Homo sapiens: one gene and its partners. The protein of the gene in region 2 interacts with the protein of the main gene of each other region in a biochemical or structural test. Each region holds a gene or a part of one and is shown on either strand. Other genes may lie near its edges.

Region 1 (8,547 bases), on a different chromosome or scaffold from region 2:
TGATGGGATGTCACATCTGTGATTGGATTACGAAAGACTGTGCCTTCTGTTTTGCTATTACTGTCTCTGGTGAGTCCTCTCTCTTGCTCTTGCTTGCTTGCACTGATGAAGTAAGCTGCCACGTTGTGAGATGCTCAACGAAGAGGCCCATGAGGCAGGGCACCGAGGGAGGCTTCTGGCCAACAGCTCCTGGGGAACCAAGGCCTTAGGAAGTGAGTCCTGCCAACAATAACGAGGTGAGTGAGGCAGGAAGCAGATCTGTCCCAACTGAGCTTGAGATGACTGTGGTCTTATAAGAGACCCAATGCCAGAGAGTTGACCCACAGAAACTGAGACGATAAACGTTCTTTTAAGCTACTGAGTTTTGGGGTAATTTGTTATGCAAGACAAGATAGCTAATATGTATCTCATTTTATAGATGAAGAAAATGAAGCTTTAGGGTGATGAATCAATGTTCCCCAAATTACACAGTTGGTAAATGGCAGAGCCAAAGCTTTTGGAACATACTAAGTTCGAGGTTCTAGGGTCTGAGTTTAAGTCTGCTTTCTCATGAGGTTCCAAGTGATTGGGACACTGCAGTTCTGGAAGAATTCTACTCTCTGAAATCCTTGGAGGATAGCCATGTTTCCAGGAAACTCTTTGTGTGCATAAAAACAGAGATGGACAAAAGTTTAAATGGTGCTAAGTGCTTTGAGTCGGTCCACTCCCTGCTGCAGAAGAATGGCTGATCCACCCATAGATCTGGTGATAGTAACCAGGAGCTCCAGTCAATAGCACAATGGCAGAACTCAGAGCTACAGCCCATCCATTTTTACAAGCGCTCAAGCCATATTATGTAAAGCAGGCGGAAGGGGGCATACACTTTTCTTGAGGATGAAAATGAATGCATTTAGTAATGAAAATGCATAGTGTGGTATTTAAAAATTACATGAGCTCTGGAATCAAATAACAAATGGTTCTGCCTGAGAGACCAGAACACCTTCTTTCACTGATTTTTTTTTCCTTCCCATCCCTGAAACAGAGCCTTGAACTTTGAAACCACAGTACCTTGTTCCAGCGTGGAAAGCAGCGTGGCACTTCCCGGTGGTGAAAGCACCCCAGCTTGAAAGGGTGAAAACACCTTCTCCCAGATAGTCTCCCTTTGTTTAGCCAGTGCTTTTGCCTTAAGGAAATCAAATGAAGGTATGCTCCTTGGTTGGCTGCTGAATCTGTCCTTCCTTGTCAGCTTTGCCCAGAGCAGCAGGCTTTGAGCTCTGGGAGGATTTCCAGGTGGCAGCAGAACAACGGTCCCATAGGCTGGAGCCTGGCACGCTTTCCCTTTTAACCAGTGGCAGAGGCTGCACTTTGCTGGTGTAATTATGCAACCTAGTGTAAAGTCCACATGGGTGGGGATAGGGGGTAGGCAAGGCAGGACTGTAAGCTGGCTCAGCACTCTGATTGGGTTTTTTGACTGTTTTTCTAGCTTTTCTTACCCTTTTCTCTCCTGCCCCCTCATCTCCTCCTCTTCCCTCCTTTTCCCTCCCCTTCTCTCTAATCCCTTCATCTTTGTCAGCCTCCACCCTCAGGGATCCCTAACTCAGGAAGCTACCTCTTATCAAATATTTTGGCTTGCCTCCAACTGCTAGTGGCAGGCAGTTCTGGCCCTTGTCTGCTATCTGAGCGATTTTCTTCTCCACCGGTTGTTTATTTCTCTAATCTAGTTGGAATTGGAATCGTGTGTAGAATCCAGAGGAAGAAAATCCAAAAGCAAAAAATGGATCCTTTCCCTAGTGAGATTGCCCCTGTGGGCTAAAATAGAAATGGAAAGAGACTTGGATTCTTTTCCCTTGAAAAGTGACATTATGAAAGAGCAGGAGAAACAGCATTAGTGTACAGGAAAGCCCAAGGCACACTATATCACTCCTCAGATATTGGACATCACTCTGAGTCCTCTATTTTCTGCTTAATTGGGATTATAAATGCTATTTTTGCCCCGAATGTACCTGCCATCTTGGTCGTGCCCAAGTGGCTCTGAACAGATACCATCTGCAGGACCTCCACAGCCAGCCATGCAACAGGAAGCTGCAGACTCCCAGACTCCAGTGTTCTTGTTTTCTGAGAGGGAGCCCTGAGAATGGTAGAGAAGCAAAAAACACAGGAAAGAAAAGAAAAAAGCTGGATGGAGTAATTACATGATAGGGTTACCTTGTGCACGTGAAAGCAAAATGTAGGGATACAAGCAATAACCCCTCCGGTACTGCACAGTCTTTGATAACACAATAGCCTTCTGTTATTTCAAGGCATGTTCCTTGAAACCTTCCTTAAGGTTTTCCCACTACTTACTGGGTTGTAACATATTTATTTTATATGTCCTTTCTTAACTGATATTCACAAAGAATAGGAATGATAGATGTGTGTATATGAGCAAAAGCATTTATACATGCTTTCTTTTTTTTTTTTTTTTTAGTGTATGAAATAGCGGCTGACTTTTGTGACAATTTTCCACCCAGTTTTGTGATAGTAATTTCGCTGCATTCTTCAACTTAGATGGCAAGTCCTCTTAGCAAGGCTGGCCTAATTCTATGTTTTCTATGGCACCTAGTCACTATGGCTGTGCAAGAGCCATTATTACCCAAAGTACCATAATAATGGTCATGTCCTCCTATGACGTTATTGTTTCCTATCTGTCAGGACATTAATTGTCTTCTAACTTGCTCTAAAATTGGTAGCATGGCACACTGCCAAGACTAGAGAGAAGCAAGCTGCTGGTGATATATTAAAAGGCTGTGTAAAAGGACATATTGGTATTTGCTTTTTCTTGGGGCATCTTCACATTTGCATTACTTCACATGTTATGGGATGTTAGCTCAGGCTTGCCTTATGTCTTGGCGTCTATCTTATCATGGTCAATGTCTGATCTTTCCTTCAGCTGAATGATTCAGACATCTCTAAGTTATTTTGGCTTTTCCACTTTCCTTTCACAGGCTTTTTGTGAGTCATTGAATTGAATGGGAGGTTATTTCTAAATTGGAAGGTGAGGAAGAGAGGAGGGGGAGGAAAGTTCCGGAAAATAACTAGGAAAAGGCACTTTATTGTTATGTATAGTTACTGGAGGAATAATTTCTGCTTAGTCTGGTGATAGAAGTATGTACTTTATTTAAACTTGACTAAAAATATAGGCTAGAAAAAAGACAATATTTTTCTGAATAATAAACCATACAGTTTTAGACTCTTTGTAGCTTGCTCTGCAAAGAACAAGGAGGTTAGTAAATAGAAGAAATATGAGACAAAGGGTTAGCAGAAAGAAGAAAGAGACAAAGCACATTTCCAAAGTCCACATCCTTGAGGTGAATGCCTCCTTGACAGTGTCTTTTTTTTTTTTTTTTTTTAAGACAGAGTCTCACTCTGTTGCCCAGGCTGGAGTGCAGTGGCACCATCTGCAGAGACAGGGGTTTCACCATGTTAGTCAGGCTGGTCTCAAACTCCTGACCTCAGGTGATCTGCCCGGCTCGGCCTCCCAGAGTGCTGGGATAACAGGCATGAGCCACCGCACGGCCTGACAGTGTCTTAAACTATCCCTGGGTGTTGTTTCATGGCCCATGGGTATATGTATCATAGGTGGGGTTGTGAGAAAGTACATTTAAATCTGATTTAGAAACTGAAAGAGTAATCAGACCAGCATTTTGTTATTTAGGAGCAGGAAAAGTGGGTGAAAAAAAAGGAAAAACAAAAAGCTAATGATGAATATATTTCTAGGAGCACAAGAGTTTTTATAGCAACATTAGATTTCTCAAAAATGCCTACTGTGATTTGTACCCAAGTGAATAAAAAATGCAATCATTTATTCTTGTGCATTGTGCCAAGTGAGGAAAAAAAAAAAACACACACACACACAACCCGGCAATTCATTCAATGGCCCTAATTTAGACTGCTAGGAAGAGGTTTAGAAAAAAAAAAGAGAGAGAGAGAGAGAAGCTTTTAAAGTATCTGACACACAGCTAGTAGGGCTATTTAAGAACTGCTGAACAGAAAAACAAAGTGGCAGTGAGAGGTGGGGGAAAGCAGAATTCTCATTTCCAGAGCATCATAAAGGGTATAATGTGGCCCGCTTATTAGAAAGTTGCTGGCCGGGCGCGGTGGCTTACGCCTGTAATACCAGCACTTTGGGAGGCCGAGGCGGGCGGATCACCTGAGGTTGGGAGTTCGAGACTAGCCTGACCAACATGGAGAAACCCCGTCTCATGCCTATAATCCCAGCTACTCGGGAGGCTAAGGCAGAAGAATCGCTTGAACCTGGGAGGCGTAGGTTGCGATGAGCCGAGATAGCACCATTGCACTCCAGCCTGGGCAACAAGAGAGAAACTCCGTCTCACAGAAAAAAAAAAAAAAAAAAAAAGTTGCTAATGGCTGTCTGGTCAATTGGCAGGGGTCAGCCAGGAGTGGATCTGGAAGCTGGAGAACTCTCAATACGCCACTTCAGTTTATTGACGACATTTATAATTGCAACCGAAGTTGACTGATTTCTGCTAAATGAAAGTTTGCGCTTTGCCCTTTAGCATTGAGGCTCCTGGAAAGAACTTCAATGAAATTGGATGCATTGAGACCAAAGAAAAGAAGGGGACATTTTTATCTCTCTGATACCTTTCTCCCCAGGGCTTGGAAACACTTCTTAAACACAACCTCTAATGTTGGTGTTTTGTAAGTACTACCCCTATGAATAAAGCTAGCAGAGATAAGCTTCTCCTTGCAGGAAGTGAGCTGGAGAAGTGGAAAAGTTTACAGAGAAAACTCTACAACAAAGACTTAACCCTTCCCGGGTAACCACGAATGTGAGCGTCTGCCCCTCCTTTGCTTTCTACTGCGCAACCAAACTGTGCACAAGCGTGAATCAACCTTAACCGTCACGTCTCTTGCCAGTTAGCTTAACAGACACTTTTAGCAGCCTATCATAACTTCGAATTGCCCAACCCTCAACCAATTACAACTAAAGCTTGGGCTAGGACGCTCCAGGTCCGGGCGGGGGCGAATACCGGGTTTAGGAAAAGGGGCGGTAAAGAGCGATGACGGGCGGGTATACTAAACCAATCAGAGAGGAGAGCTGCCGCCCCACTATCCAATGGATAGGTTAGAAGTATGAAAGAGGGTGGGCCTGTTGTCATGGGGGAGGTGGTGGCGCTTGGTGGCCACTGGCGGCCGAGGTAGAGGCAGTGGCGCTTGAGTTGGTCGGGGGCAGCGGCAGGTGAGTGCCGGTAACGCGGGTCAGAGATCTGGGGGCCGTCGCGGGGCGGAATCTCCAGCTCAGCACTCCGGAGGCGGAGGCCGGAGGAAGGGGGCCTGGACTTCGGGTCGGGGCCCGGGCCGGGGCCGGGGCCAGGGCGGAGGCGGCGGGGGCGGCGGCGAGTTCGCGCTGACTGGGCTAGGGGGAGAGGGGCTGGGCTTCTGGCTGCGGAGTTCTCCCGAGGAAGGTAGGCTACGGCCGGACCCGCGCGGGTCAGGCCAGGAGGTCCCTTGGGACGTCCAGCTGCTCCGGTCTAGCGCGCTGACCGGCGGCCACTGTGTGAGGAGTAGGTATCTGAGGAAACGGAAGCGGCCAGGGTCCCAGAGAGGGGGTGACCTGTAACGACCTGCTTCAAGGGCGGGGTGTCTTGGGAATACCCAGGACGGCTTGGGTGCCAGGGAGAAAAGGAATCCGGGAAGCCCGGCAGCGGCCGGTGAGGAGAGAGCGGGGTGGGGGGCAGGGGAACTGGGAGTGGCCCCGGTCCGAGGGAGGTAGGAAGGCCGAGGGTGGCCAGGGTCCCGGGTGACAGGGAGCAGACTTGCTCCAAGTAGGGGCGTCTGAGGAAACGCTCGGAGGGGGTTGGGGACCCTCCTGAGAAAAGCGGCTGTCCAAGGGAGGGGGCTCCTGGAGAGATGAGGAGCAGCAGGTCTTCGGAGGGTCGGACGAGTAGAGATCTTGCACCGCCTGGGGGAAGAACCGGAGCTCCCTGCGCCCCCATAGCTGAGCTGGGATGGGAGACCCAACTGGCCTGGCCGCTCCGGCTCTGAGGATCCCTAAGGGACCAGGAAAGAAGTCCTCGAGGAGTGGCTCGCGTTTGAGACCGGGGTGAGGAGCCAGCAGGGGAGTGGAAGTTCCCTCGGTCGGAGAGGAGTCATGCAAAATGGGACGGAGATGGGCGGAGGTGGGAGAGAATCCCTATAGGAGGGGATAAGGTAGAGAAAGAAAGTTGCCCGAGGAGAGAGTAATGGTTTCGTGGAACTGGCTAGGACAGTAGATATATGAGAAATTAACAGTGGAGCCATGTAGGTTCACAGGTCTTCACAAATAGAAGAAACTTCAGTTTCGTAATTAATATCAAGATGACATCTAGGACCAAAGCAAAGCTCCTAAAAGCAAGGTTAAGTGACTTGTTTTAGAAAAGAAATTTGTTTTAGGATGATGGCAGTAATATTAGGAAATAGGTTCATTGACAGGGTGGGGAATTTGGGAGGGAAAAGGGGAGGAGTAGCTGAACTAAAGGAGTAGAAGTAAATACTTATCAGAAAGAGGGTAGGCATACTCGGCTAAAGTGAAAAGAAGTTTTGAGTTCTAGTTCCACCACTTAGCTAAGTTTCTGTGCAGTTTCCTCATCAGAATACTAATAGTAATAGTTCCTACTTTATAAGGTGGTGGTGGTGTTTTTTTTTTCATGTGAGTTGGTATTTGTAGAGCTTTTAGGATAGTGACTGGCACATAGTCGTGTGTACTGGATTGTTCAATAGACGATAAAGACCTGACTTCTTAAATAGAAGGTAAAGACCTGGCTCGCAGATGTTAGCTTGCATCAAAATCACCTGGAGGGCTTGGTAAAATGTAGATTGCTTGGCCCCACCTGGGGGTTTCAGTAGGTCTGGGGTGGGGCCCAATAATTTATATTTATCTCAAATGATGATCACGTTGGTCAGAGGACCACACTTTAAGAACCACTTACTTTAATGAAACCGGTAATAATGGTAGCAACTTTAAAATACCTGCTAAAGAGACAGGTAGAGGCAAATTGCCTAAAAGATCCTATTATAAAGGATACTCATTTTTAGCCTGTGTTTTTCAAACTGTGGATTGTGATTTATTAGTAATTTATAAAATCAATGTTGTGAGTTTTTACCTGCATTGAAAATAAAATGTAGAACAGAATAAACTGACATTGCATTTGGTAAGGAAAAGTATTGTTTTGGGAAACTTTTCTCCTACATGTATGTACTAGGTCACAATGTAAAGTGTATTTCTTTTTTTGAGTTCCTGGCCAAAGGATAAAATATATTTCTTACAGTTAAAAAAGTCTGAAAGCTGGGTGCGGTGGCTCACGCCTATAATCCCAGCACTTTGGGAGGCCAAGGCGGGCGGATCACTTGAGGTCAGGAGTTCAAGATCAGCCTGACCAACATGGTGAGACCCCCATCTTTAAAAAAAATACAAAATTAGCTGGGCGTGGTGGCGCGTGCCTGTAATCCCAGCTACTTGGAAGGCTGAGGCTGGAGAATTGCTTGAACCCCGGAGGTGGAGGTTGCAGTGAGCCGAGATCATGCCATTGCATTCCAGTCTGGGCAACAAGAGTGAAACTCCATCTTAAAAAAAAAAAAAAAGGTTTTTTTGGGAGTATTATATTCCATTAAATTTCTTCAGTTTCTGATTTGGTTCCTCCTGTGTTTGTCTTGTCACATATTGTGTTATGCCTCTGACTCTGGAACTTTTTTGGATATTGAGAATCTTTGGCATGAGAACTTAAGGGAATCTGAGGCAGAGAAATTGAATGGTGTTTCTCAGATGTTGTCCGCTTTTGTTTCACTTGTGCCCTCTTGTTCACCCTTTCTTTTTTATCACTGTACCGTAAAGCATTGTTTGTAAAAGCCTGAGTATACACAGACATATTGACAGTAAACAACACTGAAATGGACTGACTTGAGAAAATTTCATGTATAGAAAATAAGCAAAAACAAAGTAAGAAACACTGCAAAAGAGAAAAATGAAAAGATATTTCCTTTTTAGAGAGTAAAAATATTAAGTATTTCTTATCCTTACACTAATATAAAACATATACAGATATTTTTAAAGGAACTAGATATACAGTTTCTAGGTCTTTGTAGAGAAAAGAAATAGTGGTAATATGTGACAGCAAAATGCACCTGGGATAGAGGCTTAACTACAAAGTAAATCATTTATTAAGAGGGAGCTTTTGTTTAATGGTTTTCTCCCTTGAGAATAAACTGGATGTGGTACATGTTGTAAACTTAACTTGTTTGAGGAACCTAAATGTAATTTACAGCGTGTTTTTAAAAAGAATATGTATGTTTTATCTGTACGTGGTTTGATTTTTCTTCCATTGAAAGCTAGATGGTTTATATTTAGGAGTTGATTTAGATCTGTTTTTATGGCTGTTAAGAACAGGAAGCAGTATTGAAAACTGAAAGAGATCCTTGCAGCTTTCTTTAAAATCTTTAATCCAGGGGATTATGTAACCTCTTCATTAATGTTTTATGAAATTGTGAAGAAACTGTTGGTATAGCTTTGCATCAGGATTTTTGGTTTATTTT
Region 2 (7,730 bases):
ATAACCATCCCTGTATAGGAAGAAAGCTGGCAGGTCACTGCCCCTTCTCTGTTGTGGTGGTGAGTGGGCAAGGGATGGGATGAAGAGAGGAACCACCAAACCTTACTCCTCTCTCTTCCATCTCCCTTGTCCCTAAACCAGGTCTGTCTTGGGAATCTTTCTAATCAAATCTTCCATATCTCATTCATTTTCAACTTTTACTAAAGTGATAAATGAGGTCAGCTGGCTACTTCAGCCTAGGCCACCAGAGAGCTCTATTTATGTGAGTTTCATAGGTCTAAGATTTAGTCTGAATGACCTGCAGCTCTGAAATCTCAATGGTCAGCAATTCTGGAATAATGGCCCATACTACCTGACACATGTGAAACTAATCTGTGGCAGAAAGACAATTTGTAAATGTATCATTGTATTTGTCTGCTCTCATGCTGCTATTAAAGACATACCCGAGAATGGGTCATTTATAAAGGTTTAATGAACTCACAGTTTTACATGGCTGGGGAGGCCTCTCAGTCATGGTGGAAGATGAAGGAAGAGCAAAGGGATGTCTTACATGGTGGCAGACAAGAGAGCCTGTGCAGGGGAACTCCCATTTATAAAATCATCAGATCTCGTGAGACTTACTATCTCGAGAACAGCATGGGAAAGACCCACCCCCATGAATCAGTTACCTCCTGCCAGGTCCCTCCGATGACATATGGGAATTATGGGAGCTACAATTCAAGGTGAAGTTTGACTGGGGACACAGTCAAACCATATCGATGATGTGGAGTGGACCTTTCCAATAAGTACTATATTTGCTATTCTGAATGCCTGTCCAAATATCAATGTACATAGCAGAGAGAATTAGCAGAGTAACTGGTAGTTCCATAAAAAATAAAGAAATCAAGGCAAATTACTCTTTTGCAGTTTTTTAAACATTTTGTATTTCAATAGCTTTAGGAATACACGTGGTTTTTGGTTACATGGATGCATTGTATGGTGGTGAAGTCTGAGATTTTAGTGCACCTGTCACCTGAATAGTGTACACTGTACCAAATAGGCAGTTTTTCATCCCTCACCCCACTCACCCTCCCCTTTTCTGAGTCTCCAAAGTCCATTATATTACTCTGCCTCTGCATCTCCAGAGCTAAGCTCCCACTTACAAGTGAGAACATGCAGTATTTGATTTTCCATTCCTCTGTTACTTCACTTAAAATAATGGCCTCCAGTTCCATCCAAGTTGCTGCAAAAGACATTTTTTCATTCTTTTTTGTGGCTGAGTAGTATTCCATGGTATATACATACCACATTTTCTTTATCTACCTATCAGTTGATGGGCACTTAAGTTGATTCCATGTCTTTGTGATTGTGAATTGAAGGTAAAGGATTTTGATTAGGTTGTACATATTAATGTATGAAGTCATCCCCATATTTCTAAAGTGCTAAACCTTTCCTATGCCCAAATATTTGCAAGTGTCAGGCTCAGGATTTCTCTTCCTGCAGTGGCAAGTTACTGCCATTAACTCCATCTCTTTTTCTTTACTGTGTACCATTGATCTTAGATCTTTGCTTTGGGCTGCTACTTTACACAGTGCACCTAATTCTATCTGGGAAGAACTTAGGGCATGGCTTGTGTGTGGTACAACCATTAATTAAAAATGAATTAGCAATATCTGATGATGCCTTTTCAAAGATTGGAAGGAACCAAACCTTCCCTAGTTTTCCCTTGGAGCAACATTTACTACCTGGTTTAAGGATAAAGGAAAGAGCTCTCATGCTCTTGGCAAATTACAAGATGGATAGTAACAAAAAAACCCAACAAACTAGAAATCATGTTTTGCCATAAAAAAATGGTATAATCAAAGTGATGTTTTTGTAAGCTCCTGGTGCTGAATGCAGTGGATGGAAACTGACAGTGGCTAATGCCTGTGTCTTCTTGCCCAGGCCAGTGAAAGACGTGTTCACCTCGTCGTGTCCCGCCAGGTTCGGCAGCGGAGCCCTGACATCTTTCAGGAAGCCGGCTGGAACAGCAATGGCAGCTGGTCCCCAGGGCCAGGGGAGAGGAGCAACACTCCCAAGGTGAGGCCTCTAGGGCAGGTCGCCTGCTCCTGCAAGGGGCTATTTCTTGGGAAGGCTGCTTGTTTTAACATGTCTAAGTGTCATCTCTGGACTTTTTTACTTAAAGAAACACTTTGACTTGTAAAACTAAAAGCCCAAAGTCCCATATTTAAGACTTGGAGAGATAACAGGTGTCTCCCATCCAAGCAGGAGAGAAGAAGGTGCAGGAAAGTTTTGAAACCTGATCATGCAGACCTCATACAGGGACCTGATTTCTAGCCTAAGCCAAATAAATGGCATGTTTTTACCAAGAGTCATCTTGTTTGAGGACTTATTTTATTCACTTTGAAATGAAGCAAGCAGTTTGCCTGGTTTCTGGCTTTTGAATTTTTCAGTCTGCCTAGAAATGAGTGATTTCCCCGCTACTTTTAGTTTTTGTTTGTGTTTGCCGAAGGGCCCAGGAAGATAATTTAAACACTTGAAGCTCATGTAACATTAGGGAGTGGTGGGGATTGGGGCAAACCAGAGAGCACATGTTATATGGCATTCAAATCCAGAAAACTCTAAAACACTGTGGATCTGTGGGTGGAATTCATTCTTCAGGCCACCAGTTTGCAGCCTCACTTTAAATGAAGTGACTCAGCCCAATTTGTACTTCTCTCTGTGGCTTCTATTAGAGGCAATGCCTTAACCTCTTCATTTGGATGCGTGTTTAAGCAACACAAACCTTGTTTAGTCCAAATTAAGAGTCCTATAGCTTTGGCTTGGCATCCTGTTGTGATGCTGATGAGCTTCTTTCAGTCATCTCTCCTGAGTTCTGGTTTCATGGCATCACTTGTAACTAAAAAAAATTCTTAAAGGTAGCTCATTCTTCTTGCAACAGAAAGTAGGGAATGCCCTTTTCTTTCTACGTCAATCTATATGTTGGTTGGAATAGCTTACAAATTGAGTTTTTGAGTAATATATAGAGAAACAATATTCAAATTTTTTATTTTGGAACATCTCTGCTTTATACTATGTTAATTACATAGCCTACAAGGTTATACACCCCTCCAGGTTCTCCAGCCAGCCAAGCCTCATAAATCCATAAATTACCTGTTTCTCTACAATAAGGAGTCTAGACAGACCAGATATATCCTGCTAAAACATTTTATGGATAAGGACTCCGTGATGTCTTTTTGCTAGTAAATGCTTAATGTTTAAATTTAACTGATCATCTTTATTAATGAAAAACTAGTTTATTAGCTTAATTAATTAATTGAAGTTTTTATCCAATTAACTAATTTTAGTTGAATTAACTAGAATACGTCATATTCTAAGTCATCAAATTATGGAGAAGGTAGCCTCCATCTGCACTGTGGTTTTAGAATTCCTTCCACCTCCTCATCATGAAAGAGCTGGGAGGATCTGGTCACATTTCTGCTGCAACCCTCTGTCATATGTCTTAATTCCTGGAAACGTGCAAACTGACTTAGTCGGAATTGTAATTATTTCCGTTTTAACTTATATTCTATCTGACTTCTGAAATATCCTCACAAAAAAGTAACATATTTAAAAAAACTGAGACATATATGGCTCTTTGATTATTTCAGTTTTTATATTCTTACTAAAATCTTGTTTGGTTTAGGAAACCAGGTAGCTTTTTAAAAATAAGAGCTTAAACAATTCAAAGAAATACCAAAGAAGACAAAGCAGGATTTGTGGGACAGAAAACTTTTAGCCAATTAAAAAAGTTAAGGAATGCTAGGCATCAAATTTTGCATGGTTTACCTCTGTGGGGAGGCAAGGCCTATGAGCAGAAAGAGTCATAGAGCGACTAAGTGCACATGGAATGTTTATTTCTGATGTAGGGTTTTGAGGTACATGGGTAGGTCATTCTGTTATTCTTTATGCTTTTTTACTTGTCTAAAATGTTTTATTCTAAATATCCAAAGCAAATATTCTAAAATGGAAATACATCTTATAGTTTGAGAAATATTCAGGTACCCATTGTGTTTTTAATTAGCTTAAACTATTTTACCATAAATTATGTTTTTAAACATCAAGGAACATTGTAAGGTGTCCAAAGTAGGGTGAGGAGAATGGCGAAAAAAGATAGATAGAAAAGTCATCTCTTTCATACGTAACTCTCCTCCTCTCCAGCCAAAGTCAGGTAACCCTGGGTGTGAAGCTTTCACAGATGATTTTCTTTTTCCATTGCTGACATTGGTCGCTTTTCTGGTTAAGAAAGGAAATGGTCATGGACACTGGTTCATGAGACAGGACACATGCACACATGCCATATTTGTGGTATTTCAGCCATTGCATCCAGCCCCTCAGTGCACAACTAAACATCTCTTGCTCACCGCAGGCAAGGCTGCCTGGTAAGCACTGAGCAGGTGTGAAAGAAGACTCTATAAAATATGGTTACTTTTTTTTAACATAGAAAAGTTTCTGATATTTATAAATGACAGAGTGTTTTTGAAATGCTGACTCACTACTATCAGGAATAAATGACTCACTTGAGAAATTTTGGGTGCAGTTCACTCTGTGTGCTTAAGATTCCTCCATGGCCAGGAGCAGTGGCTCATGCTTGTAATCCCAGCACTTTGGGAGGCCAAGGCACTTGGAGCCAGGAGTTCCAGACCAGCCTGAGCAACAAAGCAATACTTTTTCTCTATGAAAATATTTTAGAAATATATTTTTCTAATGGTCTGTAATCGGTTCCTTCCTCCATTTTTACTCTTTCCTTTTGAAGTGTAAACTTTATCTGAGTTAACCTGTAGAATTTGGGACAATGTAACCCTATTATGGTTGGGAGTGGATAAGGTGAGGGTTCTTTCCAGGTGTCTTTCTCTGTGATTTCAAGAACCACCATTGTATTTATGCACTTTGCATAATTTATGCAGCTTTGGTAATTTTTGCATTTAGAAAATGGAAACCCACTTTGCATTTTCTACATTCAAAAACTACCAGAGTTGTGAATTCATGTGCCATGTTTTTCCATCTGTGCCTTCAGCCCCTCCATCCTACAATTACTTGTCATGAGAAGGTGGTAAATATCCAAAAAGACCCCGGTGAATCTCTCGGCATGACCGTCGCAGGGGGAGCATCACATAGAGAATGGGATTTGCCTATCTATGTCATCAGTGTTGAGCCCGGAGGAGTCATAAGCAGAGATGGAAGAATAAAAACAGGTAAAAAGTAAAGGGATTTTAAAGGCACTGGGGTGGCAGAGAATCAAGAGAAATTAGTAGCTTGTTAGGTGACTATTTTCAAAATTAATGAGAGAATGTGGGAGTGATCGGCCAGGACTTTTGTTACCCATTGACCATGATTGGTTTGAGTATAGATACTAGACCAGGTTCCACTTTTCTTAGTTGCAGGCCAACTTGCCTGCAAGTAAAGCTAGAATCTCCAAACTGTTCCAGGAATTAATAGAGAACTGCTACAGTTATGAGCAAGTTACCTCTATTAAATGGCATAATGTAGTTCCATTCATTCTAAGTGGTTCTTTAGTGGGTTGATCCGGTGGTGGAATTCATGAAATAATTCATGAATTATTCAATTATATGGGTTAGATAGAAAAAGTCATTTGATAGATTTGATTCAATGAATACTCATTAAGTGAAAGTATCATGCTGGATACTTTCCCAGAGTGAAAATTATTTCACTACTTTAAGCTCATGTATTCTGGGCTACTTTGAGTAAATAAAGGAAGATGATATCAAATTTGCCTCTACAAATATGTATCCTTAATAATATTGTCAATTCATTCAAGAGGGTAGGTAGCTCAGATGGGTGAGGAATTATGCCATTTAAAAGTCCAGGTTCAAGAGATAAACTGTGAAGTTTCCCAAGTACAGCTGCTGAGCCTGAGGAGCCACAGGGGGATGGTATCTTAAGAGATTTAGTCAGCTGTCTGAAAGATGCTTCTTTCGGGTCAGAAAGGACTCAAGGCCTTTCTCTTTTTTCTCCTCCTGTCTTTTTGCTCTTGCTGTGGTTATTCTGTATAAGAAAGTTAAGCAAAAGGGGACAGAAAAAAACAGGATGAAGATAAAAAAATAGAAAATGGAAATAGGGGAGATGTATATTTTAATTTCTCTTTTCTGCAAAACATCTGGGTGGAAAATGATGAGGCCAAACAAAGTGGCTTGTTAACAAATGACTTGTTAACAGAACATAAGCTAGAGGATTATATGATCTATATGGAAATGATCCTGCACATAGTAGGCGCTTAACCAATAGTAGCTATTTTCACCTTAGCAATGAAAATGTTTTTCTTTCTGCTTCTTTAAGAGTGCAGCTCCAAGACTCCTCTGCCAGACACTCTCATGGGTAGTTTCTTTTCATTCAATCCATATTTACTGGAGGCCTACTACATGCCTGGCTCCGTGCAAATGCTGGAGCTTTTGCCAAATCCTCCTACTTTATGCTAAAAACAAGAAACAAAAGAGTGAAAAAGTAGGTTTTCTTTGATTAAATAGTGAACAAGACTAATTTTCCTCTCTCACTCCCTTCCTTCCTTCCTTCAGCGGTATTCTTGTGTAAAACACCGATAGCTGTGCTTTAGAAAACCCCAAACAAGTCTTAACAGCACCTTGGAATGCACACACTGTTTACCATTTGCTATGTGAGCACCCAGCCTCCCGTCAACAAAGAAAACCTTTGCCCTCTCTGCATCCCTGCAATCCCAGTCAGCCCCTATCCCCTTGCACTTTAAGCAGAAGTCCCTGTTTGTGCTCTCACTAAAGATAGCTTCTGCTTCTCTGGCCATCAGGTGACATTTTGTTGAATGTGGATGGGGTCGAACTGACAGAGGTCAGCCGGAGTGAGGCAGTGGCATTATTGAAAAGAACATCATCCTCGATAGTACTCAAAGCTTTGGAAGTCAAAGAGTATGAGCCCCAGGAAGACTGCAGCAGCCCAGCAGCCCTGGACTCCAACCACAACATGGCCCCACCCAGTGACTGGTCCCCATCCTGGGTCATGTGGCTGGAATTACCACGGTAAGTCCAAACACAACATCCCTGTAGGGGCGTGGGAGAAAACGATTACATTTCTTAAACCACTCTTTCACTCTCTAGGGCTGATTCATGGCACTAGCATCTTAATTAGACCCAGTCTTGGTTGTGGGACTGTGAAATAATTCTCTCTTCCCATTTGTAACTGAAAATGCATGCGGACATTCTAGGGCAAAGACAAAAGCCTGGATGTGGAAATACTGTTTGGCGTTCAGGTTGAGGAGCTCACAGGACTGCCATGTACAGCTGTGTAGGTTGTTCATGCAGCAGAGAGCTCCACAGACAGGCAGAGGGGGCAGAGACCCAGCCTGTGTTTACACCCCTTGGAGCTGAGTTGCACTGCCTAGGAGAAGGTTCACCTTCGCCTAATCTGCTAGTGGCAGCCCTGGGATCTTGCAGGGAGGCTGACTGCCTTCTGTGGCTTTATTTTATTTTATTTTTATATAGAGTCTTGCTCTGTCACCCAGGCTAGAGTGCAGTGGTGCAATCTCGGCTCACTGCAACCTTGGCCTCCTGGGTTCAAATGATTCTCCTACCTCAGCCTCCCCAAGTAGCTGGGATTACAGGCACACACCACCACGCCCAGCTCATTTTTGTATTTCTAGTAGAGACGGGGATTCACCATGTTGCCCAGGCTGGTCTCAAACTCCTGACTTCAATCAATCTGCCTGCCTCGGCCTGGCAAAGTGC
Region 3 (7,730 bases), on a different chromosome or scaffold from region 2:
GCAGTATCTTGTCATCTAAGATGTGGTCCTTCACCTGTGTTCTTCCTTGGATTCAATCACTTTAAAGTATTCCTGGATGAGTTGGCAGATTCTCTGGCCATTTAACTGGGAGTTTAAAGGCTGATGAAATTACTGCCCGGCGACTCCAGTTTTCAAGGTCACTGGCTTGTGGATTCAGGTTTAGTTTCAAGAAATTTGTATGACTCATACAAACTGGCTATAGGGCCAGACCTGGCACCTGAGATTGGGGAGGTAAGCATCTGGCTTTTAATAATCTCAGAGCTGCTTTTAGTTGCAATATTCAGAACCGCTCTTCTTGGCCCACACTAGTTCATGTAGGCTCCCAATTTCACATGGTGGAGAAACACGAAGGCACTGCCCCCGTTCCTGGGACAGGCATATGATGCCATTAGAACAGGGTTTCCAAACCGCGCCCTGGTGCTCAATGTCACAGAACCAGAGCAAAGCCTCCCATTCTCAATCATTTCTGCTGGGCATTGCTTGCTAGAGTTTTTTAATGTGCATCTTTAATTATGATTACTCTGTGTATCTGTGCACCAGAGTTCTCTGTCTTTGTATCTCCAGACATTGCCTCCACAAGGACACCTCACTGCCTTTTCTCAACTGTTTTCCCACCCAGGAGATCTGTGTGGAGCTGATGACTCCACGCTGATACAAAGAAGCCATCCTGAAGGCTGCCAGGAGTAGCAGATTAAGTTCCTGGTGCCCAGGGGGAGTGAAGAGAGACCCAGTCACCCAGGGCAGTGGGCACTGCACTCCCAAACTAACAGACTCTGGAAATAAAAGCAAAACACGACAAGACAAAATGACAGCTCCTAAGGTGAGCCGAGAACTGCAGTTCAGAGCGTCACTTGAGGCTGTGTTTGTCACACGTGTGGAAATGTTGTAGGTTAGCTGGACCATTTCCACACTGCTTCCCCAGGCTCACACCACTTCCAAGAGCTGGAATTTGGGACAGGCTGAGTCCCTGGCACCTCTCACGGCCCCCTGCCTGGGCTCCCAGGGGCTCACCTCGCCTGTGCTGTGGAGCTGCTGAGCAATGCGCCTGAGGTCCTCCTCGCTGGCCAGGGGGTTCAGCTGGTCCTGCACGTCGTACACAAACTGCTGCAGCGACATCAGCTGGTTGGGTCCATTGAGCTTCCTCCAGGAAGGCAGCGTGGAGATGATTTTCTCACACAGGTGAGTCATGGGAGGACAGACCTAGAGGGGGCAGGGCCAGACAGGTTAACTCACCTGCAGCTGTGGGTGCCCTGAGCAGAGCCACAGTGGAAAGGACACCTTTCATTCAGGCGCCTTGCAGGTGATTTGATGAACGAGTGGGTTTTTTTGTTGTTGTTGACGTTTTTTTTTCTTTTTTTAGACTGGGTCTCGCTATTGCCCAGGCTGGTCTCAAACCCTTGGGCTCAAGTAATCCTCTTGTCTCAGTCTCCTGAGTAGCTCCGACTACAAGTACACACCACTGTGTCTGGCTAGTTTGTGTTTTTTGGGTTGAGTACTGGGGCAGTTGTCTTTTAGACTTGCTTTTAAGCCTCATCTATTGCTCAAATATAAAGTTTTATAAAGGCTCTTTAGTTCATGTTAAATAGATTTTGAGTCTTCTAGGAACGTTTTTGGAATTGTGGACTCAGTCACTCAATCAACTAATGTTCACCAACTCCTAATGTTTCACTCCCTCACTTTTTCCTCCCTCCCTCCTTTCTTCCCTCGCTCTCTCTCTCGTGACTGTTTCACTCAGGCAATGATCACTTTATGAACAGAGGAAAAGAGAATGAGTATCATCATCAATATTAGAGTGAGTGTTTACCAGTAAATTAGGCATTCGTGGGGACTGTTGTTGAAATATTGTTTCCAATTAGACCCATTCTTGGTATGTAGGCTGAAGTGGATTTTTAACCTTTTAACTTGGTTAATTAGATCAGCATATGTTACAGACTCACGTAATCCACATACCTCTGAATTAGAAACCACATAAGCCACAGGCTACACCGTGCCATTAATTCCGCACTCCCCTCTCAAATTCTTTTGTGTCAGCTAAATTCCACTCTGCATTCAAAAACAAAATTCTCAGGGGTGAGTGCAGTTGATGTGGTGGGCTCCACCTGCCTGAGCTCAGGAGTTTAGGGGTTGGGCGGGGGGTGTCTGAGAAGCAGCAGATCATGCCAGAGCCCAGCTCAAAAATCTCCAGGGACACTCCCTCCTGCCTCAGGAATGCAGCCTCAATCCAGACCTGGTGGGGAAGCACAGGGGCCCTCAGAGACCACTGTTAGTTCCCAGATCACCGCCCCTGGTTTCTGTGACAGATTCCTCCCAGGCCTCACCGGACTACCCCCTATCTTCTGATGATGCCACAGTGGGACCCCAACGAGGATATCTGGTGTGAAGGGCAGGGTTTTCTGGAGACAGGAAAGGGTTTCCCGAGAATTCTGGAAGCACATCTAGAACCAGAATCTGGTGCGGGAAGCACAGCATTTTCTTATTAGCAAAGCAGTTAAAAAAAAAAAAAAAAAATACACCCAGAGGCAGCTTCAAAGGTAAGAGAGGGAGACAGGCATCTGCCCGCATTTGTCCTCAGGCCTCGGCAGCAGGAAGACTCCAGAGTGAATGCCACCACTTCTCCACTGGGACGCTCGCCCTTTTCTTACCAATTCCGGAGAGCTTTTTGAACATTACGGTGTGACCATTTATCTGTCCAAAGCATTGAGAATGCTTTTTCCCAGCCTATTTCACCTTTCAACTTTGTTTACTTAATTTGTTTGCTAGAAAAAAATTTTAAAAATTTTTACATTTTCAAACAGGTATATTTTCTTTTAAAATTTCTAGGGTTTTAGATCTTGGTTTAACAGGTTCCCTCAGTCCCTAGTTATTTTGAAAATACACTCTCCACAATTTCTATTCAAGGTATTTATTGTTTCATGTTTTTACTTAAAAGCTTTAATCCATTTATTTTTGGACTTTGTAGGGTGTAGGAATCCAACTTTATTTCCTTCCAGACAAATAGCCAGTTGTGCCAGGTTCATTTATTAAATAATCTTTACCCCATTAAATTCAAATGACATATTTATTTTCCATTATATTTCTAAAGATATTATGATTTACTTCTATACCCTCTAAGCTTTTCCTCCTATTTAACTGTATTGATTATCAGGGGCTTTATAATAGGTTTAATGAATTTTTCCATGGAAATTTTAAGATAAAAATCCCAATCCCCTCAACCCATTCAGATGCTAACTGAAATTGTATTACATTTATATAACTAGGGAAAAATAAAATAGTCATATCTTGCAACCCAAGAATACAGTCTCATTCCCTTTGTTCATTTATTCTTTTCTGTCTTTCAAAAAAGTTTGTGACTGTTTTTCTACTTTTCTGAATTTTCTAAATATTCCACAATAAGTCACTTTTGAATTTTTTGGTTTTTTCCCAAAATTGGCCAGGCATGGTGGCTCACACCTGTAATCTCAGCACTTTGGGAGGCTGAGGTGGGAGGAGCACCTGAGCCTAGGAGTTCGAGACCAGCCTGGGCAACATAGTAAGACCCTGTCTCTACCAAAAAATCAAAAAAATTAGCCAGACATGGTGGTGCGTGCCTATAGTCCTAGCTACTTGGGAGGCTGAGATGGACAGATTGCTTGAGCCCTGGAGTTCAAGGTTACGGTGAGCTATGATCACACCACTGTACTCCAGCCTGGATGACAGTGTGAGATCCTGTCTCTGAAAAAATAAAATAAATAAATAAAATATTGTTAAAGAAACCAATAAATCGGTAAGAATTTCATAAAATTGAAGTGGTCCACCTTGCCCATAATAACCCTTCAGCTCCCATCATCTCCTTGTTTCTCTATTCTTCCTTTCTTTTCCCAGGGCACTAGGATAAAGACATGTCCAGGCAGACACCTCTTACTGGGTCCTACTATGAAGCAGTTCCCTGAAACCAGAGGCAAACCAGGAAGGAAGTACAAAGGGGTCCAGGCTCTTTCCATGGTGTACTTACCGAAACAATCTGGCTTCGTATTTCTTGCAGATGATTTCGAAGTACCTTCATGTCCTTTGACCCAGAAGCCCCAGCATCCAGAACAAACAGCTTATTTGAAATGTGAAGATCATTTCCAAACCTAAGGGAAGAGCAGCAGCCTCCTCAGCAGTGAGTCAATGTCCCCAGGCCTTTTAATGGAGGGGCCAGGCTCCTACTGGCTCAAGAGGCTGGTAGGAGGGAAGGAAAGTTCTGGTGTCCTTGCAAAGGCCCCTCCCCATCCCTGCTGTTGGTGGGCTCTGCCTCATCACAGTGGGTGCAGAGACTTGGGGAAACTGGCATATAGTCTGAGTCATAGGAGCGGGACCTTCAGGTTTGCATGAAGCAGCAGGAGCACAGCATGGAAAGATGTCAGCTTCTCCCGAGGCAGGAAAGGTGAGGCCTAATGCTCGCACCTTACAAGTGAGGACAAGAGATACTGTGGAAAGTGGAGGGACTAAGAATAGAGGTGTGAATGCAAAAGCTACATCACTGACCTAAAAATATTAATAGAAGCCCCATTTTTATATCTGGCAACAGATATAGTGTCTCAAGACAATAGATAAATGTCTCAAGTTGATAATGCAAGATCAGAGATACTAGCATATTATAGAAAGCTGCAGGTTCAAACTGTTTTGATAGACTCTGAGTAAAAACATATATTTTACATCATAATCCTGTACATACCCATACTCATCAGTGAAACAAACGTTTTACAAAATAATACTTGACATCTGATCTATCCTATCCTGTCCTGTCCTTTCCTGTCCTATCCTATCCCATTCCATTCCATCCCATTTTAAAAAGAATTGGCCACGACTTCCTAAATGAATTTTAAGACTCACTAGTAGGTTGCAACTTATATTGTAAGACATACTGATTAGTGTTTCTGAACACTGAATACTGAGTACTGAAATCTAAACAGCTAAAAGAAGTCACCTCCGGGCAGTGTTGCTGGGAGGTAGAAAGAAGGGGGTTGCTTTCATCACGTGCTCTTCATTTGTATTTGATTTACTATGTGGATTCATTGTTTTAATAAAAATGAAAAATAAAGGTTGTGCATCCCTAATCCAGAAATCTGAAATGTTCCAAAATCCAAAAACCTTTTGGGCAAAGACAAGACATGCAAAGGAAATGGTTATTAGAGCATTTCAGATTTAGAATTTTTGAACTAGGATGTTCAACTGCTATGTATATGTACATATATTAAAATCCAAACAAATAAGAAATCAGAAACACTTCTAAAGCCGATCATTTCCAATAAGGGATACAAGACCTGTACAAGAAAAGAGTTGACCAAGAAAGAAAGACCTTTAAAACCTTTCTCTGGTTCATGAGACTTCCTTTGTACTTTTCACACCTCTGCTTCAGTTCTCAGGGAGAGGAGGCTACCCGTGAGCTGGAGACTAAGTGGCTGCCCCTCACCTGTTCCTAATCTCTTTCAGCAACGATGTGTCTTTGTCATATCCAAACTCGCCTCCAGCCGGTCGAGGAACATTCATGATGTCAGCGTGGGTGGCCACCAGGACAACTTGGAGTGGGTTCTTCAGCTTGCCACCGAAGGCTGGGGGCAGAGAGGGAACTGCTTCAGGGGGTGGGTCCTCCTACCTGGCTGCCTCTCCTGCCCAGGTGAGGGCGGTGTGTTGGCCTCATGCCCAGGCCGACTCTCCAGGTACAAGTGCAACATGCCACAGAGATGAAGGCCCCACGCCTGCTGTGCACTGTGACCCTAGAAGGCCCCAGCATGGCCAACGACAGGATAAGCCTATCTCCTAGGCCACAAGGAAAATTGCTCAAAGTGGACCAGAATGACTAAAGGCAGTTTCTCAAGTCTCCAAATAGCCCCTACTTACAAGGAGAGGGAAAATTTAACCTGTGACAAAAGGGATGCCGCTTACAAGACCAAAGAGAGACGCCTGAGTGCAGCAACACCACAGAGATGGGTCAGAGGTAAATGACCTGCAAGTCACACAAAGAGCCTCCCACTTCGGGGAGTGTTTAAAACAAAGGAAAAAAAGGACAAAGAAAGAGGCAAAACTGGCAGTACCCAGAGGGGCATTAAGCCCAACTCCTTGTATTATATGCTTTTCCGGAAAGAAAAAAAATTGACTGCTGAGTATTGCATTTCACCAGGGAAGGCTGCTTCTCTTGTTGTGGGCAAAGACCAAAGGAAGTTTATTTCATGTTATCCTCTCCTCTAGGAATAAAGTTAAGATAACACATTCAGTCAACATGCTCCCTTTCTTCATTTCTCTCTCTTTTTTTTTGAGACAGGGTCTCACTGTGTCACCCAGGCTAAGTGCAGTGGCACGATCTTGGCTCACTGCAGCCACAGCCTCCCAGGTTCAAGCAATCCTCCTGCCTCAGCCCCTGAAGTAGCTGGGACTACAGGCACATGCCACCACACCTGGCTAAGTTTTTGTATGTTTTGTAGAGATGAGGTTTTGCCATGTGGGCCAGGCTGGTCTTGAACTCCTGAGCTCAAGGCATCTGCCCACCTTGGCTTCCCACAGTGCTAGGATTACAGCCGTGAACCACTGCACCCGGCCTCTTTCTTTGTTTCTTAGTGGAATTACAGGATGAAGAACTGCTCATTCTGCTGACTAATTCTGTACCCTTTAGGTAAAGGTGCAGTAGCTATCCAAGCAGGGATTCCATTTTGCACCCAACATACAATGACCATGGCTCTCAAGTGTAGAAAAAAAGTGAGAAATGCCTCTCAAAGGATTGTTCAAAGTGGGCCTTTGAGGCAGGAATATGCAATCATGAAACAAAAACAGCCTGCAGAATACCACGAACACTTGAGCCTCATGAAGCTTCTCAGAGTGGAAGTCTCCCAGCAGGAAGGAGAAAGGAAGTTGGCTCAGCTGTTAGCCACAAACGGTGGGATCTGCTCATGGCCTGGTGCAAGGCCAGCAGCAGCAGTGGCAGGAGCAGGGCAGAAGCCTGGAAGGAGGAGGCGATTCCTGGCCAACCACAGGTAGGACATCACTGGCCTGCAGGGACTTAGCTCACCTATGGGTTCTTCAACTGGGACAAGGGACTTCAGGAAACTGAGCCAGAAAATCACTTGGTTCAGCTGGATCTCATAGGGCTCTTCTAGACTAAAGACAACAACATGGATTGACGTGGGATCATTTGCAGCAAAATAGTCATAACAGCAGAAATACACAGGATTTCCAGAGAACTCCCACACGCTGAAATCGCCAACTCCTACAGAAAAAGAAAAATGATAACAATCGTGAAACACCACTAACCAAATTTCAATCATAAATTCTCTTAGCGTTCCACGGATTCGAAGTAGGCATAGTGATACTTATGGCATTCTTCTGTATGTGTATACATCTTGTTATGACTTGGGTATGGTTTGTTCCCCACTAAAACTCATATTGAAATCACTCAGTGAGGTGATGTGGGAGGTGAGGCCTGGTGGGAGGTGTTTGGGTCCTAAGTGCAAATCCCTCCCAAATGGCTTGGTGCTGGTGGGAAGGAGTGAGTGAGTGAGTGAGTGTGTTCTTGCTCTTGTGAGAGTGGATTAGTTCTCATGGGAATGGATTAGGTCCTGAGAACGTGGATTGATGTAAAGCAGGTTTTTGTCCCTTCCCGTGTGTCCACTTACCCTTTGACCTTCTGTCACATTTAGACCCAGCTCAAAAGCTCTCACCAGAATCAAAGCAGATGCTGGTGCCACGCCCCTTGA

The links.
Region 1: of the proteins of LNX1 (region 2) and NUMB, one has a biochemical effect on the other in vitro, tested with the Homo sapiens proteins (2 studies listed by BioGRID, with this or other methods).
Region 3: the proteins of LNX1 (region 2) and DAPK1 form a complex in vitro, tested with the Homo sapiens proteins (one study listed by BioGRID).

What each region holds. Positions count from the first base shown.
Region 1 is NC_000014.9:73,455,164-73,463,710, reverse strand, and holds the start of NUMB (protein numb homolog), read left to right. Parts: upstream 1-5,164; 5' UTR 5,165-5,218; intron 5,219-5,977; exon of another isoform or gene 5,978-6,082; intron 6,083-8,547. UniProt on the Homo sapiens protein: Regulates clathrin-mediated receptor endocytosis. Plays a role in the process of neurogenesis.
Region 2 is NC_000004.12:53,476,048-53,483,777, reverse strand, and holds part of LNX1 (E3 ubiquitin-protein ligase LNX), read left to right. Parts: intron 1-1,923; coding exon 1,924-2,058; intron 2,059-5,035; coding exon 5,036-5,213; intron 5,214-6,796; coding exon 6,797-7,025; intron 7,026-7,730.
Region 3 is NC_000009.12:87,696,520-87,704,249, reverse strand, and holds part of DAPK1 (death-associated protein kinase 1), read right to left. Parts: intron 7,244-7,730; coding exon 7,046-7,243; intron 5,595-7,045; coding exon 5,456-5,594; intron 4,134-5,455; coding exon 4,013-4,133; intron 1,222-4,012; coding exon 1,033-1,221; intron 1-1,032. UniProt on the Homo sapiens protein: Calcium/calmodulin-dependent serine/threonine kinase involved in multiple cellular signaling pathways that trigger cell survival, apoptosis, and autophagy.